Linked DNA regions of Homo sapiens: region 2 is linked to region 1. The links come from fine-mapping of genetic effects on gene expression. Tissue or cell type: cerebellar hemisphere. Region 1 holds a variant in brackets; the other region holds the start of a gene. All regions are shown on one strand. Distances are from middle to middle.

The links. PIP is the estimated chance that this variant, and not a neighbour inherited with it, causes the effect.
Region 2: CFAP97 starts here. The variant in region 1 is fine-mapped to the expression of CFAP97 in cerebellar hemisphere (GTEx, PIP 0.98).

What each region holds. Positions count from the first base shown.
Region 1 is chr4:185,835,511-185,840,710 of GRCh38, forward strand. It overlaps a transcript of SORBS2 not described here. Among named protein-coding and RNA genes, the nearest start is that of SORBS2, 26 kb to the left of the region's middle. RefSeq lists enhancers at 3,406-4,605, 3,662-4,333. The variant A/G (reference allele first, on the strand shown) is at 2,807.
Region 2 is chr4:185,201,102-185,206,208 of GRCh38, forward strand. CFAP97 (cilia and flagella associated protein 97) reads right to left here and starts at 2,899. Exons shown (of 5, transcript NM_020827.3): 1 at 2,797-2,899. It also overlaps a transcript of SNX25 not described here. RefSeq lists silencers at 2,432-3,201, 2,811-2,982 and enhancers at 3,742-3,851, 3,962-4,051.

The sequences.
Region 1 (5,200 bases):
ATAATTTGTCAACAGAACATTAGAATGTGCTTACGTAAGTAAAAATTCCAGTGACAATTCATTTGCGCACTGTTCAAAAAAGGTGATCACGATGGAAAGATTTTAAATTTTGTTGTTTGTATTTTTGCCAATTTTGAAAGGATTTTTTTTTTTTTTTTTTTTTGCACCAGCAGTGTTCAGCTATTGGGGACTAAGTATTAGGAAACCTTTAGCCAGTTTATCTCCTCTCAGCAACCAACATGATGGGACTGGAGCCAACACTCATAGTTTTGAAAACCTCCCTTGAAGGTGGGAGACTTACTTTCCCAAGATGAGGAGTGTCTGAGGAGGCTCAACCCGGCCTGTTTCCCTGAAGAAGTCCCATAAACCGTCTATTACAGATGTGAAGGAGAATATCAAGCCTGTTGACATGATAATCCAGCTTATTGCTGCTCTTCTTGTTCCCAAAATAGTGAATGTAAATATTCATTTATTATTAAATATCACTTATTATTAAATAAGTGAATATTCACTTAATAAATATTATTATTTATAATAATATTGCTGGGGAACCCAAATACGAATGTAATAAACGATGACCCAGAGCTCCAGTGTGGTGCTGATTAAAAGGTTTAGGTGAAGAGCTACAGATGTCTACTTGGGACTCAGATCAAGAACCGATTTCTCATTTGCTTAAAAAAGAAGAATCATGGAGCGTTTTACAGAAGCAGTTGGGAAGTGAATGTGTGAGCATCATACTGACCTGCTGAGGCTAACTGAAAGCTTTCCCTGTCACACTGTCTCACTGTACCCTTCCACACGGCTTTACTTTCTGCTCAAAGCAGCAGCTACTCTGCCATTGCTCTCATCAGAGTAGACAGATAAAAGGTCAGTTTATAGGAGAGGTCAGGTGGGACACAGACAAAGACAATAGTGATTAGAAGGACAAACAGCAGAAAAGTCTTTCATAATAGTTTAGTAAAAGCAATTTAAATAACAACAAACAATATTTACTAAGTGATTATAATGTACACACCACCAAGTGCTTTAGGGAAATCGCTCATTTCTTTTTCACAATGAACCTATGAATTGGGCATGAATTTTATCCCCGTGTCACACCGAGCCTCAGAAAGTTTCATAATTTGCCAAGGTCACACAAATAGAAAGTGGCGGGGTCTCTATTCAAACCCAGCTCATGAGGCACCAGAGCTTGACACTACACTGTGTAACTATAATGTCAGTCACACCCAAGGATCAAATACCTCTTGTCCACATTATTTATAGAAAAATGTTCTTTTGAATTTTAACACTTAAAAGTGTAGAGACAAAGAAATTATGCGAGAACTTGGAGTGTAACAAAAGGTGCATTTTTGCTAAAAACTGGCTCTGTGATCTAGGGAGAGTCACCCATGACCTCTTGACTCCAGAGTCCTCAGTTCACAAAGATAGCTAAGCTGCCTCGAATTCTAAAGTTGTATGGTGTTTCTGTTCACACAGCACTTGAACATCTACTTACTGCCCTTCACTTATGGATATTTAATTATGAGTGAAGGGTTTTGAAGAGAGACTTTATATTATTCACATTATACCTCTTGCCTCTGCATAGGACCTCACATTCAGTTCTAATCTTTATACGCACCAGAAACAAAATTACATAAATCTAAGTAAACTTGCTCCTATCAAATGTGCTCCGGAAAATTGCCAAGTTTATATGGATTTTTAAATTTTACATCAAACAGATCCTATCAACTATTTGTCCCTAGAAAAAAAAAAGATGAAAGGCCAGAACTGCCTACAAGTTGCAATGTCATTGACTTTCCAGCAAGCATTGCAGCTGTCCTGGGAAAACTGAACCTGAAATATGTTTTTGAAACTGCTGAATTTCAGCTTCTAGTGTTTTTCACATTTTAGAAACAGGGAAACTATTAGCTTTAAAATGCTTGTATTTAATAGTTTTTTTCTTAAGCATTTCAAAAACCCCAGGTGAAAAGCTAAGTATGAGAAAGGTTCTCATGCAATCGTTAATCAAATGCAACTAGGTTGGAAGAAGATACATGCTTATTGCTTTGCGGAAGTGGCTTTTGTTCTAACTGAATAGGTTGAGGTAGATTATTCCTATTTAAACTTAGAAACGGAACCTCTAATACAATTGTTAACATTCCTGCAGTGAGGTCGTTTCATACAAATGTAACTGTGACAGGCTGAGATATTCCTTTTGCAAAGCCTATAATCTCTATGTAGTTAATCAGCATAAAGTATTAAAATCATAAATATGAAAAGAATCTCAAAAGAAAAATGATTTAAATTACTCTAAGACTATACAGACTATCCCCAAAGGCATAATTTCTTTAATAGAAAAAAAAAAAACCCACATTGCTTTGAGAACAAAAAAGATTCTGGATTCTTTTGTAGGGCTGCTTGGGCCAGTCCCACCTCTTCCACTTGAAGTTTTTTGTTTGTTTGCTTTTCTTTGAATGTGGAGAAAGTCTCTAGCAGCCTTCCATTTCCTCTGGTCTGAAAGTCTGTGTCCCTACTGAAGTTCTACAGCTTCTTTTATAACATTTCCCATTTGACACTAATTCCAACAGATGATGCTTTTCTAAGTTTGTGTTGTTTATAATTTACAGCACCTGGTTGTAGCCAGAGTCCCTTGCATCTCCCCAGCAGGGTGTGCGGGACCCATACTACCTGCACCCAGGCCTGGCTGGCCCCGCCCACAGGCCTTAGCTTCCTGCCCAGCTTCCCGGCTGCAGTGGGCCTAGCTATAACTTGCTCTGTTCCCATGGCTGTGAAGCCATGGCCGCAGCCTCTGCCATCTCATCTCCTC[A/G]CGCTGTGGGTTGCCTCTAGCTCCCCTGGGGGCTTGGGCAGGCCACCATCATGCCAGGGGCGTCAGAACCCTGGAAATTCTCCACCCTCCTCAACTCACGGATGCGCTGGTTGCCCCAAGGGCTGTCTGGGGGGCTCACGGAGGAGAGCCTGGAGGAGAGGGGGAATTGACACTGGCCCTCAGAGAGGACACAGAGGGCAGAGCCAGCAGATTCGAGATGCAGTAGTTCCATTAGGGCCTCACTCCCATGTGACACAACAGCCGCCCAAAAGCTCTTGAGAAACTAAGGGCAGCTCAGTGATGTGTCACCTTGCATTTGCTTTGCCTTTTTTCCTGCCTTGTCTTCAGTCTCCTTTCACTCTTGCATCCTGGGATGGCATGTCCGCTATCTCCTCGCATACAGTATTAGCATGTAAGCTTTGCCTCTGCCTCGGGCTCTCTGTCCTAGGGAAACCAGTTAAGTCCTAGTTAAGTAACAGTAACAATCCAGATTTCACTCTCACCACTTTGACATGGAACCTCCTGTCTCTGATAGCAGCCAAGAGGGTCAGAATCACCAGAAGGTATCACGTATGCTCACAAAGACGTGTGCTCAGCCACCACAGGGTTCTCACGGTGTTTATTTCTATGTTGTTTCTTTGTCCTTCCAGCAGGCACCGCTGCTTTCCATGGGGCATAAACTGGACATCTCTTTCTCACCCTGCCTTTGAGGCACTGACTCTTCAAGGCCCCAACACTGCACGATGTTATTTTGCAAGGAAGGGGAGAACACTGCTCTTTCTCATAACATGCAGTCTGTCCTCAGAAAGATCCAGTAACGGTGGGACTTATGCTCCCCATTGTGAAAAAGAATTTTAAACTTGCAGAGGGGAGCTAAGTCAGAAGACAAATGCAAATGGCAAACACTCGGGGTAACTTGGATACAAGCCTCTGACTTAACCTCAGCCGCTGGCTTGGAGCAGAGAAAGAGGGCATGGAGAAGATGAGTAAGATTCTAAGAATTTCCAAATGAGTCATTAGACCAGGACTGAAACAGTTTGAGAACACTGCGCTGGGATTCCTCAGGCTATTTTACCCAGGACTCATTTCCTTACTGCAGTTCTGAAGACAATGACCCTGGCCCCAGGGGTCGGTCCAGTAGGAGGGCTGCAAGGGATCTTTTCTGCTGCATTTACAACATCCACGTATTCTGCAGTCAGAGTTCCCAAGAACAAGCCGGAGCACACTGAGCGCTCCCTAGGGAGGAGGCCTGGGGAGAGCTTAAGAGAGGAATGTACTCCAAGCTTTATGTGCTTGTAATTTGTTTATAGTGCTGTAAAGAGTTGTTTTTCGATGGGACTGTCTTCTGAGTCCTGTACAATAAAGGACATACGTATAAAACTCTAAAATGTAAATTAAAAGCTGAACCACCATAAAATAAAGGCAGTTTGTACAAACTGAAATATTCAGTGCTTTGGGTCTGGGTGAGGTGGAACAAGAAACCCTAGGTAAATTGTAGCAGCGTTAGATGTTTGGCCTGTTTAAAGAAGGATCCTTAGAGGGATGGAGTCATAAACACAGGGCACACTGGCCTCAGAACAGAACTGAGAGGGCTCCAGTAAGCAGAGTGGAGACATAAAGCATCCTGCCATGTGCTTACGATGTAGGATATCGTCAGCCTCTCAGCATGAGTCTTACCCTGTGGAAGAAAGAAGTGGAAAGAGAGGAGAGGAGCATCTCTGAGCAGCACAGCTCCACGCAGAGTTTCACCCCAGTGCTTCTCTGTGAGGTGTAAATACAGCTCTACAGCCTGGGAGGACTGGCAGAGGTCACCAGTAGCAAAGAGTGATAGCGAGATTCCACGGTCATTTGTGGATGAACAGGGGTTGTTCATTTTAAGAATATTGTTTGGGTAAACAAACAAAAGTCAATTTTCCCGTGTTATGGAAATGCTCTGAGAAAGGCAACCTCACACAAATGGGTCAAAGAGAATGCCAAGGTATGGAATGCCTGCTTGTTTGCAGACCAAAAATATCTCTCATTCATACAAGATAGAATCTAGCTGGATTTTGGTGTGGTTCTTTCATAAGCATCTCTCTTGTGTGGCCGACTGCTCCTATTCAGATGAATAACTATGCTAGTATCTTGCATAGCTGATCCATGACCCTGCTACTAATTTCCTCTAAACCTGTCTGTAGAATATCTGAGTGGTTCAAAACCCTTTTAGTTCCATTCCAATCTTCTTCTTCTATCAAATCCAACTAGGCAGGAGGAAACAAGATGTGTGACTCTTGGAAAAAAAAATACCAGCGATGATCTCTGAGACCTGTGAAGTACTGGCCCTCTTTCAAATACAATTCGATTTCTTTCTCACACCCAGCCTTTAAAAAATAATTAGGGGGATCTAATGCACAT
Region 2 (5,107 bases), 630 kb before region 1:
TCACTTCAGGTCAGAAGTTGAAGACCAGTCTGACCAACATGGTGAAACCTCATCTCTACTACAAATAAAAAAAAATTAGCTGGGCGTGGTGGCCCATGTCTGTAATCCCAGCTACTTGGGAGGCTGAGGCAGGAGAATCTCTTGAACCCAGGAAGCGGAGGTTGCAGTGAGCCCAGATCACACCACTGCACTCCAGCCCAGGCGACAGAGCAAGACTCCGCCTCAAAAAAAAAAAAAAAAAAGTTCTACTCTGGATAAAATGCTGTCAAGCAGCATCACAAGCTACAGAAATCTTTTGTGAAAAGAAGTCAATCAATAAAGCAAAGTTAATCATTGTCTTATTTTAAGAAATTGCCACAGCCATCCCAACCTTCAGCACTCAGCACCCTGATCAGTCAGCCGCCATCAACAGTGAGGCAAGACCCTCCACCAGCAAAAAAAAATTACAACTCCCTGAAGGCTCAGATGATTGACAGCATTTTTTAGCCATAAATTATTTTTTAGATAACGTATGTACATTTCTTAAGCATAATACCATTGTACCCTTAACAGACCACGGTATAGTGTAAACATAACTTTTATATGCACTGGGAAACCAAAAAATTCATGTGACTCGCTTTATTCCAAGATTTAATTTATTGTGGTGGTCTGCAAGCAACCAAAATATCTCCAAGGTATGCCTGTATTTACCGTCCCATAGTTTCAATCCCTAGAGGTCTAACCCTCCACCTGGTTTTATGATCTCTTCATGTCGTATCTCCACAGTTTATCATCTTTTAAACACCGTATAGAAACTTTCTGGCCTATCCACTTCTTTTCTAGGAAAGCCCTGTGTCATTGTAAAAATTAACATAAAATACGTATGCCTTTTCTCCTGTTAATCTGCCTTACAGCCCCAGCTGCAGACCCAGCTAAAGGAAAAAGGATTTTTGTTTTTCCCCCCATCCCCTACACTTGTCTCCTTGCCAGACTGGGAGCTCCTCGTCACTTCCTCATCTTTATAACCCCAGTACCCAAAGGAGAACCTGATGAATTTAGTCATTCAAAGAATGTTTATCCCACAAAGGAGTTTGGAGTTAGGAGATTTAAGATTGAGCCATGCTCTTTGCTACCCACGAGGGTAGAAAAATCGCCTTGTATGTGTGTGGCTGGGCATGGAGGCTCATGTGCGGTGGCTCATGTTACAGTCTCATGCCTGTAACTTTGGGAGGCCCAGGCAGGCAGACCACTTGAGCCCAGGAGCTTGAGACCAGCCTGGCCAACATGGCCAAACCCCACCTCTACAAAAAATACAAAAATTAGCCGGGCGTTGTAGCTCTCGCCTGTAGTCCCAGCTACTCCGGAGGCTGAGGTGGGAGAATCGCTGGAACCTGGGAGCTGAGGCTGCAGTGAGCCGAGATCAGGCCACTGCACTCCAGCCTAGGCAACAGAGTGAGATCCTATCTCAAAAAACAAACAAACAAAAAAAATCACCGGGTTTCAACCCAGTTTCCTTGATAGTTTCCTGCCATCTTCCCCCACCCCTCCGGAAGCACAAACCACAACTATGCCTTTATCTGCATTTCCATGATAAGGTCATGCAGTCCCCAAGAGCTGGAAGCCAGCTGCCTCCCTAAGTGGTCACAGTTCATGCGCCCTGGTGCATAGTCCGGTGCCTGTGAGACTTTTCAGGTTTAAATTTTAGTTAATAATATCCAACAGAGTTACTGTAAAGATTTCGACACTCATGTGACTTAATTTACAGGAAAATTTACCCAACAATCCCATCCACTGAGCAATTCTTTTGATAACATTTACTACGAGGTAAGTGATTCAATTTACCAGAGAATAAGAAAAATGACTTAATAAAGTAGTTAAGATTCTCTTTACAACAGACTAGGAAAGGATAAAATTAAAGGATAGTTCATCAGACCATAACAACCCTTTGGTGCTCAATCAAGACAGAGTTTTGCCAGGAGGGGCATGGCTCACGCCTGTAATCCCCGGACTTTGGGAGGCCAAGACAGGAGGATCGCTTGAGCCCAGGAGTTGGGAGGCTGCAGTGAGACATGATCGTGCCACTGCACTCCACCCTGGGCCACAGAGCGAGACCCTGTCTCAAAAAATAAAAATAAAAAAAAGAGACAGGTAAGTTTTTATCAAAGCTGCCTGAGAGTCACTGGGCACGCCCCACTTGCCAGGTCCTACAGACCAGCAATAACAAGACTAATGCTTTCACCAAACATCAGGAAAATACACAGAAAAGCACCGGGCACTTTTTAAACTGTCATCTTGTTACTGTGACAATACATTTCTGTAGTTAAACAGCACAGTAGGCCTCCAACAAGATGCCCAATTGGGTACATGAAAATCCCGGCCCAAATTAAACACCTGTTTCCAGGAACGCTAGGCTCTTGTCTACATCCCCTACCGTCCCCGGAAGGCAGATAACCCCTCGGGCCTCGTGGGTTAGGTTCGAGTCCCTACAAGTAGGAAGAAGTCGTCAGGGCCCGGCATGTGGTCGCGGCCCAATCTCAATTTAGGGCTGATCCTGACCCTCAAAGCCACCCGGAACGCGCGAGAGGGCGGGACCCGCCATTCTCACAGGGGACCGGGGTGGAACGGCGCCGCGACCCGCCGCCGCGGGCGCCCCTGTCGTGGGGGCGCGGTCTCCCACCGTCCGCGCAGGCTTCGTTAAACCCACCCCGAGTACTCGCCGCCGCCTGGGCTCCGGAGCGGGGAGACGGATGCGAACGGAAAGGAGCGTGGCGGGCGCCCCGCGAGCAGGGAGCCAGGAGCCGCTCGCGCGCCCCTCACCTGAGAGCCGCGGCCACCACAGCCCCACGCGCGGCGCTGGCGCACTCCCGCGGCCCTGAACGGGCTCCCGGCGCCGCGCGCCCGCGCTTCCGGAGGCGGAGAGAGCGGAAAGGGAAAGGAGGGGCGGCGTGGGGCCCGGCGCTTCGGGAGAGGCGGGGGCGCACGCCGGGCCTCGTGCGGCCCTCGCGGCGGGCGTCACAGAGCGCGGCGGGCAGGCGGCCAGGCCGGGGCTCCACGCGGGCGGAGTGGAGGCCGGGCCAGGGACGCGCACACTAGAAGAGCCGCGGAAGAAGGCGGTCCAGCCCGCGTGGTTGCCATGGCGCCCTAGAGGCGTTACTGCTGCTCCCGGCTGCCTAGGGCGGCGCGGGTAGGCCCCGTTGTTCTCGTGCGTTAATAGGGAAAGCTGCCTTGATTATCTTGTAATTCTCTACCAAACCAAGAATAAAAAAGAACGGCGGCTGTGTGTTTGTGATATTTTCTATCAGCAAATTTCAGTTCATACCACTAGTTAGTTCTGTGGACCAGAGGCTGGTTTCAGAATGGAAAGACCTTTGCCGAGTGGTAAACGAGGTGGGTAGTTAAAACAATCTAAGGTAAAAATGATCTCTGCAGAATATATTGAATACAATAACTTCTCGTTGAACTCTCAGGTATGGTAGGATGATGGCACCCCAAAAATGTGCACCTCCTAGTCCCCACAACACGTGAATATGTCACCTTATGTGGCAGACAGGATTTAGCTGATGTGATTAAGGATCAAAATGGGAAGATTAACCAGGATTATCCAGTGAACCCCATGGAATCACAAAGGTCCTTATAAGATGGAGACAAGAAGTTCAAAGTCAGTAGTGGGAGCTGTGAGCACAGAAGCTAGAGGTTGGAGTGATGTCAGAGGCAATGAGCCAAGGAGTGCAGGTAGAAGCTGCAAAAGGAGGAAACGGATTCTCTCCTGAAACCTCAGGAAGGAACTAGAGCCTGCAAATTTTGATTTTAGACTTAATACCTTAAGCACTGTAAGACAATACACCTGTGTTGTTTTAACTACTGAATTTGTAGTAATTTGTTATAGCAGCAATGGTATACAATCCAGTAGTTAATAAATATTGTTCACATCTAAGTGCAAAGAAGGGTAGGAAATATGGGTCTTACCCTGCCTGTCCCGGGGAGTTCCAGTAAGGATTGTCTATTTTCGTCCTTCACAATGCATTTTGTACTTGTTGGTCTTAATTACCAAAAGTATAATCAATTCTCTTTTTGTTGCCTAAAAGACAGCATTGGCTGGGCGCAGTGGCTCACCCCTGTAATCCCAGCACTTCGGGAGGCCGAGGCGGGTGGGGCCCCCTGAGAGGAGTTCAAGACCAGCCTGACTAATATGGTGAAACACTGTCTCTACTAAAAATACAAAAATTAGCTGGGCGTGGTGACGTGAGCCTGTAGTCCCAGCTACTCGGAAGGCTGAGACAGGAGAATCGCTTGAACTCCGGAGGTGGAGGTTGCAGCGAGCCGAGATCGTGCCACTGCACTCCAACCTAGGCAACAGAGTAAGACTGTGTCTCAAAAAAAAAAAAAGCAAGAATTTCACTTTCTTTTAAAGTGCTTAATAAAACTGTGTTGGCACCACTTTCCAGGGATAGTTGTTAAACTGTGGTTGGCCCGGCGCGGTGGCTCACGTTTGTAATTCCGCACTTTGAGAGGCTGAGGTGGGCGGATCACCTGAGGTCAGGAGTTCCAGACCAGCCTGGCCAACATGGTGAAACTCCGTCTCTACTAAAAATACAAAAATTAGCCAGGTGTGGTGGTGCACATCTGTAATCCCAGCTACTCAGGAGGCTGACGCAGAAGAATCGCTTGAACCCAGGAGGGAAATGTTGCAGTAAGCTGAGATCACGCCATTGTACTCCAGCCTGGGCGACAGAGCAAGCCCCTGTCTCTAAATAAATAAACAAACTGTGGTCAAAAGTTTATCTTACAAAGGACTTGAGTAGATATTTCTCCAAAGAAAATATACCAATGGCCAATAAACACATGAAAAGATACTCAACACCACTAATTAGGGAAATGCAAGTCAAAAACACAATGAGATACCGATGGCTTTAGTCAAAAAAATAGAAAATAAGGATTGGCAAGAATGTGGAAAGATCGAAACCCTTATGCATTGCTTGTGAGAATGTAGCATACTCAGCCACTGTGGAAAATAGTATGGCATGTTCTGAAAAACTTGAACATAGAATTATATGACCCAGCAATTTCCCTTCTGGACATACACTAAAAGGAAGTGAAAGCAGGGTCTCAAACAGATACTTATGCACCC